2 separate regions of the Homo sapiens genome follow, and region 2 is linked to region 1. Evidence: fine-mapped expression QTL. A gene starts in region 1. The other region holds a variant in brackets. All regions are shown on one strand. Distances are between the middles of the regions. Region 1 holds the start of NSUN2 (NOP2/Sun RNA methyltransferase 2). Region 2 overlaps NSUN2 (NOP2/Sun RNA methyltransferase 2).

What was found. PIP is the estimated chance that this variant, and not a neighbour inherited with it, causes the effect.
Region 2: its variant is fine-mapped to the expression of NSUN2 in whole blood (INTERVAL, PIP above 0.99).

What each region holds. Positions count from the first base shown.
Region 1 is chr5:6,626,955-6,636,765 of GRCh38, forward strand. NSUN2 (NOP2/Sun RNA methyltransferase 2) reads right to left here and starts at 6,090. Exons shown (of 19, transcript NM_017755.6): 1 at 5,930-6,090; 2 at 5,645-5,802; 3 at 4,919-5,023. The coding sequence starts at 6,025. It overlaps SRD5A1 (steroid 5 alpha-reductase 1), which reads left to right and starts at 6,486. Exons shown (of 5, transcript NM_001047.4): 1 at 6,486-6,915. The coding sequence starts at 6,623. RefSeq lists enhancers at 6,186-6,697, 6,698-7,209 and a silencer at 6,333-6,722.
Region 2 is chr5:6,594,964-6,604,778 of GRCh38, forward strand. NSUN2 (NOP2/Sun RNA methyltransferase 2) reads right to left here. Exons shown (of 19, transcript NM_017755.6): 16 at 9,642-9,722; 17 at 9,175-9,313; 18 at 7,498-7,537; 19 at 4,276-5,269. The coding sequence ends at 4,963. Among named protein-coding and RNA genes, the nearest start is that of LINC01018, 18 kb to the left of the region's middle. The variant C/T (reference allele first, on the strand shown) is at 4,967.

The sequences.
Region 1 (9,811 bases):
TTTTGATGGAAACAAACTCAGGACTTAAAAGCCCGACACTGCTCAAGTCAAAATATTACAAAATATACCTGAAAAGCATTTTCTACCAAATAATGAAGACGAAACTGGCTGAATCTGTCCACGGCCACCCTCCAAAGGTCCCCAGCGCTTTGATTCTATCTCATATAGCCCAGTTCCCTCCTCGACATTTAATGTGTTCAAAAATATAAAGCCAAAAGAAAATCATATTCATAAGGCAATTTTAAAAAGAATTGTTTTAAATAATCTTTTGGACTCATTAGAGGCGAAATAGTAGGTTACATGCAAATTTGGCATTTGCTATAGTATTGGGCAAATATCTGCTGTGCCACTGTAACCTCTACTTGCAAACAGCCAAATGCCAGCTCATATAGTATCTGGTCTTCCTGAACTTGTCTGTCTCAAAGCTAGTACGATCATGTAAGTTATTGCCTTACCAAATCACTAAGACATCAATATGAACACCACATGCCATTTAGACTTATTGTAAAGAGCTGAATTTTCATTTTCAAATATAGATAAGCAGTCTAGATATACTTTGAACAAATATAGCCTTATATGTCTTTTTCGTCAAATTTCTGATAGTCAAAATGTAAACGTACTATTACAAGATTAAAATTCTACAGTATTTATAATTGTGAAGGCTGTTGATCTCATGTAAAGAAACATTTAGGAACTCTGAAATATTTAAATACAAACAGAAACTAACAGATAAATGTTTATTTCCTCTGGGTACAGAGAACAGCCTGGGCAACAAAGCGAGGCCCTGTTTCTACAAGAAATGTTTTTAAATTATGTTTCTTATACAGCTTTAGGAACAGCATCATCTTTTTATGAACCAAAAAATGTTTATTAAATCTTTGTAGATTTTAACATCAAACAAAATGAGAGGTATATTTAATTTTTAGTTACTTACTTCAAATTTAGCTTGTGTCTTTTAAGAAAAAATCCTATTTGGGCTTTTTAGAGGATAAGTTAAAAGGACCACTGTCATCTTTGCATATTAAAAATTCTCAAGTGGTAAGGACTCTGTAAATATATACAACATCTATGACAAACCATCCTCAATCTAGACATTAAAAAGCACGTAACAGGCGAGGTGCAGTGGCTCATGCCTGTAACACCAGCACTTTGGGAGACCAAGGTGGGCGGATCACTTGAGGTCAGGAGTTCAAGACTAGCCTGTCCAACATGGCAAAACCCCAACTGTACAAAAAATAGAAAAAATAGCTGGGTATGGTGATGGGGGCATGTAATCCCAGCTACCTGGGACGCTGAGGTGGGAGGATCACCTGAGCCCAGGAGGTGGAGGTTGCAGTGAGCTGAGATCATGCCACTGCACTCCAACCTGGGCAACAGAGACCTTGTCTCAAAAAAAAATATAAGTAAACAGCACATAAATAGAATGATAATAAGGTGCACTCTGAACAATTGGTTGTCAAAACAATGCTTCTATAAGAATGCTTTAGGATAATTTCTCATTGTTCTGAGTCTATGGAAAGTAAGAAAAAAATGAAACTGGCCCAAGCTATGGTCCTATACATAACTTTCCTTCTAGAAAATGTAATTTCAAAAAACGTTTTCCTAAATTATATTTCACTATGTACCAGAGGATTGGGAAGAATATTACATGATCTATTCCTGCATCTTGAGCAATACAGAAAATTACCAGAAGTCCTGGAAAGCTTCTGCTTTACTTGCTTGCTGAGAGATTTAGTACCCTAAAACTGACAGATGAATTTGAATAAATAAATGTTTAGAGAATACAGCTGCCAAGAAACTGGCATTGGCCAGGAATGGTGGCTCATGTCTGTAATCCCAGCACTTTGGGAAACCAAGGCAGGAAGATTGCTTGAGCCCTGGAATGCAAGACCAGCCTGGGCAACAAGGTGAAACTCCATCTCTACAAAAAAATAAAAAAAATTAGCCAGGCGTGGTGGCATGCACCTGTAGTCCGAGCTACTCAGGAGGCTGAGGTGGGAGGATCACTTGAGCCTAGGAGGTCAAGGCTGCAGTGAACCGTCATGACATCACTGCACTCCAGCCTGGGTGACAGAGTGAGACCCTGTCTCAAAATAAAATATAGAGAAACCATCATTGATAATGGAAAAAGCCAAATATTAGAAACCCAGATCTACAATGTTTTGTTCATACCCTTCAGCTGTGTGTTCAGAAAATTAAAGCAAACAAAAACATAGCTGGCTGTTGGCAGAGAGCAATTCACCTTCATTCTTCAACTACAGACAACCTGCAGATTCTAAGAGTTTGGTAATTACCTTGTCATATACCCAGACACATTGTTAAACAAGGTGGAAAAGCAGCTATGAAATGTTAAAAGGGCTGATCAAATCCAAGTGTAACTGTAGTTTGCAGAGAATAATAAAAAACTAGCAAGCCTTATTGACATCGTATGGTTTCTCCTAGTTTGTTGGAGCCTGCAGAAGAAAATGCCCACATGGAGGTGCCTTAAGAGCACACCTCTTCCCTATAGACACATGCTGAAACGTTCCTCCTGGACAGGAACTTCTTCATCTTAAAAGCATTTCTTATCCCGTCTCTGCGCTTCTAAACACAAGGTTTTAGAAACAAATGTTTCCAGGTGATTGTGTGAAGCAGCACATACATGCATCACTGCTAAAAATACAAACATGCCCGAGGAGAATCGTAATCCTGTCTTCTTAAAATATTTTAGATGGTTTGGCTCTGTGTTCCCACCCCAATTTCACCTTGAATTGTAATATTCCCCACGTGTCAAGGGCAGGACGAGGTGGAGATAATTAAATCCCCGGGCCGTTTCCCTCATGTTGTTCTCACAACAGTGAGTTCGTTCTCAGGGGGAGATCTGATGGTTTATTAGGGGCTTCTTCCTTTGCTCAGCACTCATTCTCTCTCCTGCCACCCTGTGCAGAGAGATCTTCCGCCATGATTTTAAGCTTCCTGAGGCCTCCCCGGCGATGTGGAAATGTGAGTCAATTAAGCCTATTTCCTTTATCTATACATTACTCAGGTATGTCCTTATAACAGTGTGAAAATGGACTACTACAGTATCAGACCTCTACTTCAAGTACAACACAATCAGTGTCGTCAATCAAATCTTCAAACCAAACGACTTGAGCAAAGTCTACAACCTAGTTACCAGGAGGAAGAAAAGCTTGATCTCGTGAAGGTTACCTCATCTCAGCAATGCCATAACTAGAGGCTGAAAAACATCTACCTTTTCCACTGATCTCACTACAGTGGACAATTAGTGACCACTAACAGCAACGTAGCACCCGTATCATTTTCCTATACTGTACCCTTCAAGCTTTTAAAAATCTAAGATGTGGCATATCTATTCTTTTTTCCCTTTTTGAGACATGGTCTCGCTCTGTGGCCCAGGCTGGAGTGCAGTGGCATGATCTTGGCTTACTGCAACCTCCACCTCCTGGGTTCAAGCGATTCTCATGCCTCAGCCTCCCTAGTGTCTGGGATTACAGGCGTGTGCCACCATGCCTGTCTAATTTTTGTATTTTTAGTAGAGATAGGGTTTCACGATGTTGGTCATATTTATTCCTATATCCCAGCAACACATTCCATGATGGTGATATTCGGTCTTGATACTGGTTGAATACTGACTTAATGTTTGGCCAGTCAGCATTCATTGTGAATGTATATGCTTATCTGTGATAGGGACAATGAAAATCCAAATAGCCAATGAAAGAAAAACAAGCAAATCTGTACCCCATGATTAATGAAAATCTGACCTTGATTTGCGAACACTAAAGGTTATCCAAAAAGGAAAGATAACACTACGTACTGGAATAGTCAAAACCTCAAAAGTTGATGCAAAACGCTTAATTTGGCAGGGCGCAGTGGCTCACGCCTGTAATCCCAGCACTTTGGGAGGCCGAGGTGGGCGGATCATGAGGTCAGGAGATGAGACCATCCTGGCTAGCAAGGTAAAAACCCGTCTCCACTAAAAATACAAAAAAATTGGCCGGGCGTGGTGGCGGGCACCTGTAGTCCCAGCTACTCGGGAGGCTGAGACAAGAGAATGGCGTGAACCAGGGAGGTGGAGCTTGCAGTGAGCCAAGATGGTGCCACTGCTCTCCAGCCTGGGCGACAGAGTGAGACTCCGTCTCCAAACAAACAAACAGACAAACAAAAAACGGCTTAATTCACCTTTTCGTGCATTACTTTTCTGAGAACTCAATACCTCAAAGTTAATAATAACGACTTTCCCACTTATGTAAGTTAACTGAAGGACTGGCGCCTCCGGAGTTCTCCAAGCATCTTTACAAGATGCTATCAGCACAAGGGATCACCTTCATACAACTGAGACTAGAACCGAGCCATGAGGAATAGGTAACCCAGAAGGCACCTCCAGGACAGGTCAAGAAAGAGGTAGCTCCCAGAGTAGTAGCACGCTTGGGTGCTGAGACTCGGAAATGCTACATTGGCTGGTGCAGTCTGTACTGCGAAGTACCAGGAGACAACCTGACAGCAGACAGTGGTAACCTGTCTGTAATGGAAAACACTAAGAGACTACCTACCAGGAGACTGTTGTCAAGCTAAGTCTGTCCTTTTTCTGAAGGCAAAGCAGCCACTCTGCAACAGTTTTGATGTGAGAAAACAAGGGCTGTAAAAGGGAGCTGGCGGAAGTGGTGACATAAAGGAAGAGGCTGGATGTACTAGGAAGAGCTGGCTGAAATCAGTGACTCATAAAGCTGCAAATCGCAAATCGCATGAAAACTTGCGTAGCAATATAATGTTGATAAAAGCACCAGGTACTAGAACATTAGGATGTTTGCAAAGTATACCCAAGCTCTTTAACAGCAAATGCAGTACCAAGAAATATAATTCAAGTGATAGAGATTAATATCCCAAATAAATATTCGGCATGAAGCACTGTGGTACCTACCAACTCAGTGGCTGTGGAACTTCAACTTTCTGACCGTCCACCTCCAGGTCCTCCAATTCCTTAAAATATTTGTTCTTTAAGCAATGGAGAATCTCTTTTGCGTGGCTATTGAAAAATAAGGAAGTTTCAAACTGATCTAAAAAACTAAGTTAATACATTGTATCTTCTTAAATTTAAGACTGCAAGTGTTTTAAAACTAAAACCAACTTTTGCATGGAGAGTAAACATTCTTTAGTCACTACTTTTACACTGTATGCCTTCAAAATTTAAGCAATCCACACTGTTTGAGCCCTAAGAGCAACACTGCATTCCTTCTCTCCTAAGCATATCCTACCGTTAAGTTTTACTTGCGACTCATTTAGAAAGATGTAACTACAAAGATGGAGGGGGGGCGCGGAGGAGGGGAGAACCAAGGGGTTTTATGCATTCTCTATAAATTCTCTTACGTTCCAAAAGGTAAGACCCTCAGCTTCCCTCCTGGAAGATTCCCCAGGAGCCGAATCTTCCTCAGATCTCATTTTCATTTCGTCTTCTAACCTTGCGCCTGCAATACCTCCGTGACCATTTCATTGGACCCTGTGCTCCCCACCTCAATGCTTCCTGAATCCAAACCGCTGAAACGCCACGGTTCTCTGGCACTGTAACACTTGTCGAAGAAAACACCGTCGCCTTTAACCTCCAGCATCCTGGCCCCAACTCCCAAAAAATCAGGCACTGCCTCCCTACCTTTTGTAACCAGTAATTCTTAAAGTGGCCGGGAGCGGCTCCCTGAGAGCGTCCATGAACTGGCCCCACTCGCCCTCGGGCACGATCTTGAGCTCCTGGTAGTAGTGCTCGAACAGCTTGTTCTCCTTGACGATCTCGGGGTAGCCTCCTTCCCAGCCCTGAGGAAGGAAAGAGACGTCTACCCCGAGGCCCAAGGAGCCGCCCCCTCGCCGCCGCCTCGCAGGCCTCGGGGTCCGGGAAGCCCAGGAGGAGCCCCTGGCCCGCCCGCCGGGTCCCGGCTCCTACCGCCTCGCCGCGCTTTCCACCACCCTCGGCGCCATCCTCCGCGTCCTCCGGCCGCTGCTGTTGCTGGAGCCGCCGACCCCGCGACCGCCGCCCCATAGCCCACGCGGCCGCGCACGCAGCACGCAGAAACCGGCCCGCCACGGCCAGAACTCTAGCCCTACACCTCCCGGGACTTCCGGCCGGAAACCAAGGCCCCACGTGTCCGGGCCTGGTCCTTTCGGGGACCTTTGGGGACCGTCCAGGAATAAGCCCAAAGCGCACAACCCGTCTTTCAGAAAAGCGGCGTGACAGGGAAAACAGCGAACAGCTCTAAGGGGAAAAAAATGCTCCAGGAAGCAGCCACAAAGGCGTCTCCGCGCGAAGCGCCCAGGTTTCCCACGCGGGCTCAAGGAGCTCCGCGGACAGCCTGAAGCCGCGCGTGCGCAGAGCGGCGCGGGGTTACTGCGGCCCCGGCGTGGGTGGGGCGCTTGCAGGTCCCTCCCCGCGCAAGTGCTCGCCCCGCCCCCGGGGCCGCACCCACAGCCCCGGCTACCCCGGAGAAGCCTGACTTGAGAACCCTTTCTGCAGAGTCCCGGCAGTGCGGGACTCCGGTAGCCGCCCCTCCGGTAGCCGCCCCTCCTGCCCCCGCGCCGCCGCCCTATATGTTGCCCGCCGCGGCCTCTGGGGCATGGAGCACGCTGCCCAGCCCTGGCGATGGCAACGGCGACGGGGGTGGCGGAGGAGCGCCTGCTGGCCGCGCTCGCCTACCTGCAGTGCGCCGTGGGCTGCGCGGTCTTCGCGCGCAATCGTCAGACGAACTCAGTGTACGGCCGCCACGCGCTGCCCAGCCACAGGCTCCGAGTGCCGGCGCGGGCCGCCTGGGTGGTGCAGGAGCTGCCCTCGCTGGCCCTGCCGCTCTACCAGTACGCCAGCGAGTCCGCCCCGCGTCTCCGCAGCGCGCCCAACTGCATCCTCCTGGCCATGTTCCTCGTCCACTACGGGCATCGGTAACGTCCCCGGCCCCCGGCCCCCTACCCTACTCCCGGCCCGGCGTCCTCTCCGACCCTCCCCTCACTGCCCGGTGCCCTCTCCCCGAAGCCTCCCCCACCCAGATGCCCTCTCCCTGCCAGATCCCCCGGGGCGTCCCCCATCTGCACGGGTGCCCTTCCCCGAGTCCCCCGGCCCCGGGAGTTTGGAAACCAGAAGGGATTCGTCTGGAAAGGGCGGGAAACAAAGGACTGGAAGGGAGTGATGGAAAAAAACATGATGAAACTGATCTGGAAAGAGCCACTCAGTGGTCCTAGGTTTGGTTTCCTTAGCCGGGCGCGGTGGCGCCTGTCTGTGATCCCAGTTACTCGGGAGTCTGAGATGGAAGAATCGCTTGAACCCGAGAGGCGGAGGTTACAGTGAGCCGAGATCTCGCCACTGCCCTCCAGCCTGGGTGACAGAGCGAGACTCTGTCTCAAAATTAAATATATAAAAATAAAGAGTTAAAAAGTAAAAATGTAAAATAAAAATGAAGACTAGATTTTGTTCCCTTAGATCACGACTGTGGGGGCGGGGGGGAGGGGGTTGGCCTAGAGTCTAATGCTGATGGTCGGTCTTGAGGGCCACTGGTTTCTACTCCTTTCTGCCGGTTCCCCTTTTGGTATCTTTGGTGATGGTGGAGCTGTTTTCTCCCAGCCAAGTGATCAGCTGCAACTGGAAACCTGCTGTCCTAAAACTGCCTAGCAGTTTCTCCTTATAGGCTTGATCACTTTCAGAGACTTTCATGTCCACCTTATGCAAGGGACCCCAGGATTGTGGGGGTGGAAAGCCAGCAACCTTAAACCTTAAACAAACGAAGTCTTAAAGATGACTTCTAAATCTTTCAAGGTTTTTGTTTTTTTGAATATTTGAAAACTGGCTGTGTCTGAAATCTTCAAGCCTTCTAATAAGTTGGGGTTCTCTCCAGGTCGTATCTTTTGGCTTTTACACAGCCAAAGCAAACGACAGGTCGAAAGTTCAAAATTAAATTTTAAACGTTTTCATTCAGGCTCTGGAAAGCTTCACAGTTAAAAAGGATGTCTCTACACCCAAGGAAGTTGAACTCACTGGCTGTGTGACTATGGGCAGTTTACCCAACCTTTCTGATTTGGGGTCCCACCTTAAAACACTCACTTCCCAGAGAGACAGGAAGAACTCAGTGTGTGTTTATAAGCCTCTCTTCTTTCTCCTGGTGTCATGCATTCCAGCGAAGAGAAAGTACACAGCTCCACTACTTGGAACCAGTGTTGTACCCAGCACAGTTTTTGGTACCTGAGTTCCCTGAAAACCAGCACCTTACCCTGTAACTGGTGCAGTCTGTGTCCTCAGTGTGCTTTGATGACTTGCACTTTAAACAAGGGCAAGTCAACATTCATCAGAGGCTTAGTGAGTACTGTGTGCCTGAAACTCTTTACCATTGCTTTATTTTTTTTTTGGAATGGGATCAACCATTGCTACAATTTGAATATTAGTCAGACTTTGCTGTTTGTATATACTTTTCCATAAATATACCAGAAGCTGTATGTCTGTTTCTTTATGGCTAAAAGCAATCTCAGGTCAGAGTATTCGGTGCTATCCTAGTCCCATCAGTCATGACCCTGGATGAGTTACTAAGCTGCCCCGCAGCAAGGTTTCCCCACCTGTAGAATGGGCATGGTGATGGAACCCCCCTGTGGGATCACATGAATTTAGAGCAAAGGCAACTCCCTAAAATGCTTGCATGGTGCTGGCGCATCTGCGTGCTCAGTACACAATACCTAGCACTATTTTGCATTGCTGTGAATGCACATCCAGACATGTACTCTGTGTGTCATTCATGTGCACTGCTGCCAGCCTCATGTGCCAGCAAAACTGTGGTGTTGGAAATCAAGGGAACACTTGACAAAGTTTTGCCTGACATCCCAAGTGGAAGCTTTTTAACTTGAGACATCATGTTTCATTGTACCTACATTCACTCAAGCAGAAAAATGAATGCAGCCTCCCAAAGGGCCAGAGTCACCTTGAATGATAGAACTTGAACAGCTCATTCATACAGAGTAGAACACGGAGGCACAGCATGCTGCTGTCTTCCCTGAGGCTGTTGGATAAGGAGCTGCTGGGATGAAAGCCCACTTCCTATACTAATAGTTTAAAAGCTGCTCCAAGAGGATTGGCTGGGTCAGGTATAGTTTTTTTTTTAAATTGCTAGGCTATTTTTTTTTTGAGTTGTACATGTTATTGTGTACATAGTCTATGTGGTTTGGGGACATTTACATTTTCCAAATAGAAAAGATAAACATTTTCCATTCTACCCAAGCAACTAATTTATTAAACAGTCACTTGATCTAAGTCATGAGCACTTGGAAGAGAACCAGAGTGGAAACAGCATTTAGCACTGAACACAAACCATCCCAGCAGCCCCTGGAAGCGTCCTGGAGCCCTTTATTTGCACAGGGCCCTGCAGAGAACGGAGAACACCACACCCGGTGAGAGGAGGCTGTGGGTACAAGGATGACTCTTATGAAAGGCAGGAGAAAAGTGAGCCTGAGGAGGCGCTGGCCAGGCAGAGCCAGTACCACCTTACACAACCTGACAGGTGTGCACACAGGCCCTGTGCTGACCTGTGAGGTTTCGCTGGAGTGAGGTTGGGCCCTGCCTTGGGGAACTAGAGCCTCTTTTGGGAGTGGCAAGGACCAGAGCCAGGTCCAGGGACTTTCCACAGTCCATGAGGCCTGAAGGCAGCAGCAGAGCTACAGCTCTTCCCAGAGCAACTGACTGTTCTGGGAACAATGAGTACAGGACAGTCAGGTCAAGGAGGGAGGAAAGGTGAAGGAAGGGATAGAGGGAATGGTGCGCTTTCATGTATTTATTCAGCAAACACTTAAGGAAGACTTACGT
Region 2 (9,815 bases), 32 kb before region 1:
GACTTTGTGGGAGGTAATTGAATCATGGGGGTGGTGATTTCTCACACTGGTCTCATGGTAGTGAATAAGTCTTACAAGATCTGATGGTTTTATAAGTCGGAGTTCCCCTGAACAAGCTGTCTTGCCTGCCACCATGTAAGACGTGACTTTGCTCCCCATTCACCTTCCGTCATGATTGTGAGGCCTCTCCAGTCATGTGGAACTGTGGGTCAATTAAACCTCTTTCCTTTATAAATTAGCCAGTCTCAGGTATGTCTGTATTAGCAGCATGAGAACAGACTAATACAGTGCTTTTGTATTTTTAAAGTTAACATCTCTCAAGAAGTGGGTTGACTCAAGCCTCAACTAGGGCAGGATCTGTTTCCAAGCTCATGTATGGGGTTGTTGGCTGGATTAGGGTCCAAGGCAGTTGCTGGACTAAGGGCCTCAGTTCCTTGCTTTTCCAATGCTGCACTTAATTCATTGCAGTAAGGCAGGTGTGAGGACTTTACCCAGCAGGCCCAAGGCCACTCTCCCTAAAAAGGCCTGAATGCAAGACTGGCCCTTAGTTGGCCTCTGGGAACCTGGATTTTGGGAGTGTTCCCAACATCCCAACGGGTAAGAGTGGTTCAATGTGCCTAAACTGTTTATGCAAACAATACACTGAGTGCCTGCTTTCCCTGCGGGAGTCTGGAATGTTGGAGGTGCCAGACAGGTGCCCACATGACCCCTGTAAGCTCCCTGAGCACTGAGTCTTTAATGAGCTTCCCTGAAAGACAACACTTTGCATGTGTAATCACAACTCACTGGGTCAATCAAGTCTGTCCTGTTTGATTCCTCTGGGAGAGGACTCTCGGAAGCCTGCACCTGTTTTTTTCTAGATGTTACCCCATGTGCCTTTCCCTTTGCTGCAGTCACAAGCCTTTTGTGTAATACATCATAGCAGAGTAGGACTAGGTGCTGAGTCCTGGGAGTCTTCACCAAACCCACGGGTGGGTCTTGGGAACCCCGACACAGCACAAGAGTATCACCAACAAGATGGAAGTCAGAGTCTTCTGTATAATCTCATTGGAAGTTTTGCCCCATCGTCATTCTATACATCAGAAGCAAGTCACAAGGTGCAGCCCACACACACAGGAGAATGCACCAGGACATGAACCCCAGAGGCGGGGGTCAAAGGGGCTGTTGTGGAGGCACACAGGCCACCGCGGCAGAGCCAGGAGTCAAGCCCCTCACCCTCCACCCCAGGCTGTGCAGCATTCGTTGAAGTGAGCGAGAACAGAGACGTCCCAAACCCACTTCCTGAGAAGTGCTCTGGGAATGGAGTGCCATTTGCTAGGGTGAAGCGCGTGTATACACAATCCCAGACTTGCGGATGCCCATTAATAATTTTGTCCTCTGGGCTCACAGAGATACAGATATCTCTTTCGCAGCACTTATTCACTACTCACTTGTTAACTGAATAGAGCTAAGATTACCATGTTTTAATAGAGAGGGCCCCTGACTTACAATTCTCAACGCATGATTTTTTGGCTTTATGATGGTAGGAAAGCAACACATATTCAATAGAAACTGTACTTTGGATTTTGATCTCTACCTGGGCTGGTGATCTGTAGTCGATATCCTTGTGATGTGGGGCAATGGCCGAGTTGCTCCAACAGCCATACGATCACAAGGGTAAACAACCAACCCTCTGCAGGGGACTGTGTTGCCAGATGATTTTCCCAACTGTAGCATGGAAGTGTTCTGAGCATGCTGAAGGTAGTCTAGGTGTACTTAATGCACTTTGATGTAGGACATTTTCAACTAATGCTGGGCTTATCAAGACATAATCCCATCGTAAGCTGAAGAGCATCTGTATTTAAAATCTCCTTGTTAACACTGGCCAGCCCACATAGATGCCCTCCTCAGAGGCAACCAAAACTGTCAATTTCTTCTGTATCCTTCCAGTTACTTTACATAAATTCAAAAGCACATGTCTCCAAGCCTGTGTATTTTCCCCCTGTACACAATGGCAGCAGAATGCACATTCTTCTCTACACCTTGCGTTTCTTTCTTGGTGGTCACTGGACTCCAGGACACAGCGAGCTGCTTCAGCCCCTTTGCTGGCCAGTGTCCACGTGGGGGCTCTGCACCATTGGTGTCCCAGTGCCTCGTCATTGATGCTGAGGGCTTCCAGGTTTCTGCTATTAACAACATTGCATCAAATGACTCTGCAGACACATTTGACTCATCTGTGGGCCTGTGAAGTGGACTCGCTGGCTCAAAGTTGTCCTTCTTTTTAGGAAATTTATTTTATTCATCTACTCAACAGGTACGTCAAAGTTCAAAGGAAACAAAGAGTTTTCAGTAAAAAGTTTTTCTCCCATTTAAGCACCCCCACCAGAAGGCAACCACTACTCCCAACCTATGGGGCTGGCTACTTCAGAGAGGCCCTCATCAGAGACAACCCTGCTGGGTGGAAGCGAAAACTCCTTCAGCTGATGTCTTTTCTTCTGCCGTGCACTCTTCGGGAATCGGAAGACCCTTACCAAAATGCTGATTAAAGTTAGAGAAAGAAAATCCTCCATGTTAGGAGCAGTCTTCTCTTGAATGTTTCCTCAGGCTTATCCATACACCATAATAACTGTCCACCTTATTTATCAATTTTTAAGTTTTCTTCTCCCTGTGTGGTCTGTACTTGCTAGCTGCTATTCTGTTGTCTTTGACCCCTACATCCATCCAACACTGGAGGCTGCTCTGTGTCTGGTTACCCGGGGTTGCCTATTCTGACAAGGCAAGGTGCTCACAGGCAGTGCTGAGTGTGGGAGTGACTCCTCGCTTTGAGCGTCGCTACAGGGTGATAAGAGTGGGCTACTTCCCAGGAACCCTAAGGCCGCTATCTTTACGGCTTCTTTGAAGCTAGACAGTTTCCCCAGAGAAGCATCTTTCAACAATCCCCTTCTGTAGACCAAGATCTCACTGCCCTAAAAGTTCTGGGGGCTGAGGGAGGAGAAAGATGCTGAGAGCACTAAACCCATCCCCACACACCTGTGTGGCCCCCAGGTCCCCACCGTGCCCGGTGTCCCCAGTCCAGGGCCTGGACCAGCAAGTAGGATAAAGCACTGAAACTGACTGGAAACAGTTCCCACTGGCCAATGCCGGGACAATCTGAGAACCAAAATAAATGACAGTAATAATAAATAAATAACTGAATAAAACAGAATCCTTGAATCCGTACTGACAGAAAATGAATCAAGAAGCAAACAAAGGACAGAGGAGTGCTTATTCTATGTAATGAGAACTAATAATGTAGAAGTGATGAAAAATGGGGGAAAACAATTTGTAGCTGTCACAGTAAAAACTGGCTCAGGCAAATTATCAAGAAATACTAAAGCTGGCAGTTAAAAGTTTGATGAGAGAGAGGAATATAGTCTTGAAATGTCTCCTTGCACAATACTTACAAATTTTTCAGTGGAGAAACTTGGCAGACAGATACCATGTTACTAATAATAAAACAAACTTCACCACCACTATAAAGAGAAAACCCAACATCGTCAGCCTCCTGGCATGACGCAGCGAGAACACAGCACCACCTCTGTGGTCCTCCTGTCAAAAACGCACACATCACAGGGACACTTCAGACCAACCAAAACTGAAGCACATTCAGACTACCTGACCGGTACCCTGCAAGACTGTCTCAATCATAAAAGACAGACTGGGAACTGTTTCTGACGGTAGTGAACTCGAGACAAGACAGCCAAAGGCAACTGGTGTCACCCCAGACAAAATTGGACATTGTGACTGCAAAGGACATTACTGGGCCGCTGGAGCGAGCTTGCTGGTTTGAGGGTGACCTGCATCCACGTTTCTGACGCCTATGCTGCGAGCTGTAAAGAGGGCCTCTGTTTCCAGGAAACACCACAGGAGCAAGGGGGTAACGGAACACGTCTGTAACTTACTGTCAAAGGGTTCAGAAAACAATGAGTGACATGCAAGCACACCAGAGGATGCAAATGCAAATGTAGAGAAATGTTCAGTGGAGAATGTGGGCGAAAGAGAAATAGGAGCTCTTCACGCCACAGAGCTTGAAAGTATTCCACAGTGGAGACTCCAGAGACAAATCCACCAAAGGCAGTGTGTGGTCGGTGTTTGTACAGACCAACACACAAAATGAGGTAGACAGGAAGACAGCAGCCTTCACAGTAAAACCGCTTTCACTAGAGAAAATAAGGATGTATTCTAACACTGCCATTTAGCCAAAAGTAAGTTTGTTCTTTCTGCTTCCTAAGAGCAAAAACAGGAATCACACATGTATATATTTTATCAATTTTATTGAAATATTCCAAGGATCCCAACCCCATTTAAAAATAAAAATTGTAAAGCACTCCATTCAATAAAAGCACATAAGTCCCCCTCAATAATTAGTATGACAATTCACGATACAGCTCTTACTCTGGGAGAGTTTATTTTACCCTTTATTCCAAAAGGCACAAAGTCATCTGAGGCCTCAGATATTAACCCCACTGCATGTTAATGACACACCACTGAGGTGCAGCTCAATGTAATTATTAAAGCTTATAACACACTTCCCCAAGAATTTATAGATTCTTTCTATAAATAATAATTTAAAAAATACTGCACCTTAAGACCAATACAGGCTTAACAAAAGACCTGAAATTTCTGCAAGGGCAGTTTTGTTTCTTGATAGAAGTACAACTTTTGAAAGTCTATTCCCAGCAAAAGAAACACTAGACCCAGCTTGGCCAAAGAAACAAAATAAAACAAGTGATTTCTAACACGCTAAAAGAGTACATTTTCATCAGCTCCAAAGAAAGCAGTCCTGGTCATTCAGAAGGCTCCTATGATCCCACCAGTCTGCAGTCATTAGAAATATATGCTTTACAGGCCACAGGCTGCTCTGGATTTGGTTTCAGACACCAGTGACCAGAAGAAGCCAGTTTTGCGTGTGAGGGGTGTGGGCCCCCGCTGCCTTGGGCCTGCTCAC[C/T]GGGGTGGATGGACCCCCGCCGGGTCACAGCCTGCTGTCACGTCTGGACTGTTGGCCTCTTCTGCATCTGGGCTGTTGGGCTCTCCTGCTCTCTGTCCCTCAGTCACGTCATTGTCTGGCTGTCCGGTGCTGGCTGCACTCTCATTTGTGAGGATAACCCCTTCCTTCTTCTTTTCTCCCAATACCTCCAGCCCCATCATCCTGAGATAATGAAGCCGTTCATTCTTGGGCACAAAAGTTCGAATGGAGGCCTTTCCCCGCCATCCGCATAAGACGATGGGACACTGCAGAGCGTCTGGATTCCTACAAGTGAAAGTGGCTTCATGTAGAACATTAAACATTCCCATAACTAAATCGAATGAGATGTAATATGCAACTGCTTAAAAAAGAAAACCACAGAAAACCCATACCCACAAAACCCCCAAAACTACTGGGAGGACATTTCATCTGGATCCGAGGGGTAGGTTTTCTCAAAGGACTTCCTTCTTCATGTCCTGAGTAAAATTCTCACCCTCGCTTTCGCCCTGCCTCTTTAAGTTCACAATGGAGTAGAGGCCCCAAATCTACAGATTTCACATACACTTTCTACATACTTCCTTCTCAAACTTAACTTACTGTCCCCGCCACCCCGTGTCACCTCACCCCACTAAATGAGAAGCGTTTCTCCACAGGCTCCCTGCAGCTCACCTCAAGTTTCCTAAGTGGACTGAAGCTCCTGAGAGGCTGGGAGACTCTGCCCTTAGCAGGGCGTCAGAGCAGGACCCAGGACCACCGGGAGACTCTGCCCTTAGCAGGGCTGCCAGAGCAGAACCCAGGACCACTCATCCTTTTGATACTCAGTGTTAGCGTGATTTCTTCTCCAGGGACCCCACATGGCAGTCTGAGCCCTGCTGGGCACACAGTGCTCATTTCCGTTCCCAGCATGCAGTGTTACCCACAGTCAAAAACATCCCTGCCTCTCTGAACATGCTCCGAGCCTCCCTACCTTCCAGGCTCCACCTGTCCAGCCAGGAGGCATCGACGCCCCAGCAGAGATGGACGCCACCATTTCCAACCTGCACACGCCCTCTCTCAACTTATCTGATTTCTTTCATACGGGACTCTGACCTAGATTTTAGGCTCCTAACGGCCGTGTTTAATCACCTTTCCATTTTTCCTAATGTAAAGCAGGGGCACAAAGGTGGTTTTAAGAAGTGAGAGGAAAATATAAGAAATTCCCAACTCCCATCTTCTTAAAAAAAAAAAACCATTATTCCTGAAGTTGACCTGTCACCTGTGTATTTCACCAAGTAGAAACAAGTGTTTAAATATGGAAAAGTGAATCCACACCTTAAAATATCCCAATATTTTCTATGTGGGCCACATGGGACTGTTATTTTAAAAACCATTTCTGAGTCTTTGTTCAAACTCTCGTTAAAAACACCCAGAAGCCATCAATCACTAGATGCTCCTGCCCGTTCACCATCCAGACACCATCCGCCTCCAGCAGGTCCCCAGGGTGCTCATGCGCTCGGCCTCGCTGACCTCTCCAGCCCATCCATCTGTTGTTCCCTCACCAAGTTCCTGCCCCTCCCACCTCAGCCCCCACCTGTCCTCTCTCCACATGGCAGCCGGACAGCCTGAACCCTGAGGACATGTGGCCCCTCGGCCTCCCTGCCAACCTCTTACCTATCCCTCCTCCTTCCCTACTTGGCTGGGCCCGCCCCGACCCCCAGCTTGCACCTGCCTCAGGATCTGCGCTTTGGTGGTTCCTTCAAGTTAGCACTGGATCCCTGGTCCAACACTAACTTCCCAAAGAAATCTGTACAGTGGTTCTACCTATTCACTCCCCCAAATCCCAGTCAGCCGTGGACCCCATTCTGTTTCCTCCTCTCAGAAATGGTGTTGCATGTCACCAAGACGGAGCTGTTGCAGGTGAGATCCGAATTCTGCCACTCGTGAGCTGAGGAGCTCTGGGCAAGCCACCTAACTTTCTGTCCCGGCTTCCTCCTCTGGCAAGTGCTGCCAAAACCAGCACCTGCTCCCCCAAGGCCCCCCACAAGGATGCAGCGTGAATACATGCAAGCAGCGTGGAGCAGTGGTCCCGTGGGGACCGTGAGTGCAAGCGTGAGCAAATCCCATGCTCCGGCCCTAGCACTCCTGATGCAGTAACATGTCAGCAACACACATGGCTGAACCAGCCATGAGGACAAAAGAACGGAACCTCACTCAACTGTCCAATCTTCACACTTACTCTGTACAAGACAGAAATTTTCATTGGTTTCTAATGCTTAAAAAATAAGTACTATGCATTTTATTCTCTGTAAGTAAAAATTCACTTAGCCTGAGCTGAGTGTTCTATGAAACAGCATCTTCATGATGACCTACAGGAATATTTTGGTTCTGAAGTTTTCACAAGGCTACTTCTGAGGAACAATCACAAAAGGCCTGAAGAAGGTTCCCACCTTCCCAAGTCACTTTCCTCACCAACGAGAACACTGTAGCTAATGACAAGGCGTGTGTGTCTAAGGGCAGGGCGTGTACTGACTTACGCAGAATCTGGTTCATACTTCAGCACGATGCTTCCCTTTGCTGGAAAAGAAACAGACACACATTTGCCAGGTTTTCCAGGTAGTGGATGCATGCGCTGAGCACATTTCTGCACCTAGTGATGTGTTAAGTATTCTGAAGAAAGAAAACAACAAATAATCTACATTCTTGGCTTCAAGGATCTAGATGGTGAAAAGAGGCCGTCTGGATACATGAACCAAGTCCAAATGACGCAGTAGGGACGATCTGGAAGAGGACCCAGGCAAAAGCCATTCAGGGACTTCAAGGGATGTCACCTGACAATCCACTCTGAGAAGCAAGGAGGCTGGGGATTAACTGCTGGTTAATTCTTCAAAATTCAAAATTAAATAAACTATAACACCAACTCCCAGAATGGCATGAAATACATAAAAATTGTCTAAAACAATACTGCAATCATCTAAGTGCAGGATTAAAAGAAAACCAGTATAAACAGGTCCTTTATCCTTTACAAGAATCTCTACTTTAAATTGTGGTTCTTGCCTGGAGACGGCAGTGGGAGACAGACTCCACAGAGCATGTTTTATATCCCAAAGGAACCACACGAGTAAGTTTTAAACGCAAGTAAGAAACGTAACTGCAAGAAGTGATTCACGTACTTTTGATCAAATTGAGCCAAAAATATTAAACAGCAAGTTATTTAAAAAAATAAACAAGAATGAAGACAACAGAAAGAAAATTAGAACAGCTTGGAGAAATGATTTTTATGCTTAGGGGAAAACGTCACTGGAGTGATCTGAAGTGGAAGTTGATGAAATATAAAAGCAGCAATATGACCAATAATCTACTCCAGCTGGCTAGCAGAAAAGTCAGAACTGCTGGCAAGACTCTTATTTTGCTCTAACACAGGTGATTAAAATCTGCATGTTAGCCAGTCTCGTGAGGCTGTGTACCTTAAAAAACAAATTTACTGGCTGGGCGCGGTGGCCCACGCCTGTAATCCCAGCACTTTGGGAGGCTGAGACAGGCAGATCACAAGGTCAGGAGATTGAGACCATCCTGGCTAACACGGTGAAACCCCGTCTCTACTAAAAATACAAAAAATTAGCTGGGCGTGGTGGCGGGTGCTTGTAGTCCCAGCTACTTGGGAGGCTGGGGCAGGAGAATGGCTGAACCTGGGAGGCGGAGCTTGCAGTGAGCCGAGATCGTGCCACTGTACTCCAGCCTGGGTGACAGAGCGAGACTCTGTCTCAAAACAAAAAAAGAAAAAAACAAATTTGCTCATGCACAGAGACCTGCTTCCACCCACCCCCGACCTGCTGACAGGCAAGTGGGTCAAGAGCTCTGGCTGGGAGGCTTGCCAGGGCTGCTCACAGGCTGACCCCTCCTCTCCCCGGACTCTCTGGCCCAGCAAGGTGAGCAAAGGCCAGCCCTGCACGCCACACAGACACACCACAGGCTGCTGGGCAGCAGCAGGGCACCACCAGAGCCTGGGGAAGTACACCAACCCCAAGATGCCTTTGACCCTTAGCATTCTGAACTGTCAATCAGGGATCTACAGAACCCTCTGGAAATTGATGTAGCCATAAATAAACTGAAAACTATGATTGATAAATATGCCCCAACGCACACCACCTGCATTTTTGCTGGCCTTATAAAGGGAATACAAGTTATGTCTCTATGCATTTCCAACTACTCACCCAGGTCCTTTGCTTGACTGTAGGTCTCACTGCTGAGTTTTCTAAAAAAGGGATTTTCCTGGGTCAACAGTATCTTAACATCTTCCATTGATACAGTAATAATTCTTGAGTTAATAAATGGATACAATGTATATATTCCCTGTGTGAATAAAGAGAATGAGAGAACAGATACCATGATGTCATTCATGAACGACAACAGCCTGCTCTCAGGGGCTATGCTCTTAGCGGCTATGGTGGTCGAGCCCTCACTATGGCCCCTCCCCTTGGACAGGTGTGGAACCCACCCCCCCCTAGGAGGGGAAACCAGCACTCTGGGAGAGCTCTATAACCTGTGAGGGTCAAGTGGCTGGTAGGTGCCAGCCAAGCCCTGAGCCACTCAGACCATCTGGCTGACCAGCAAGCCCATCTACTCCCGACTGCTTCAGTCATCTGTGGCTACTGCTGTTCAAATCCACTTCCAAAATTACCTCCTGTGCCAGCCGGAAAGCACAGTCAAACTCTTCACCGCTGTTATTTCTACACCAGACTTTGATCCCCGTGTTAATAACCTGTAAGTAAAAAAATAAGATGAAACACAGAGAGATGAAGACAGGACCATCTCCTGTAAGGATGCCGGGCCACATGGAGCAACCGTCACGGAA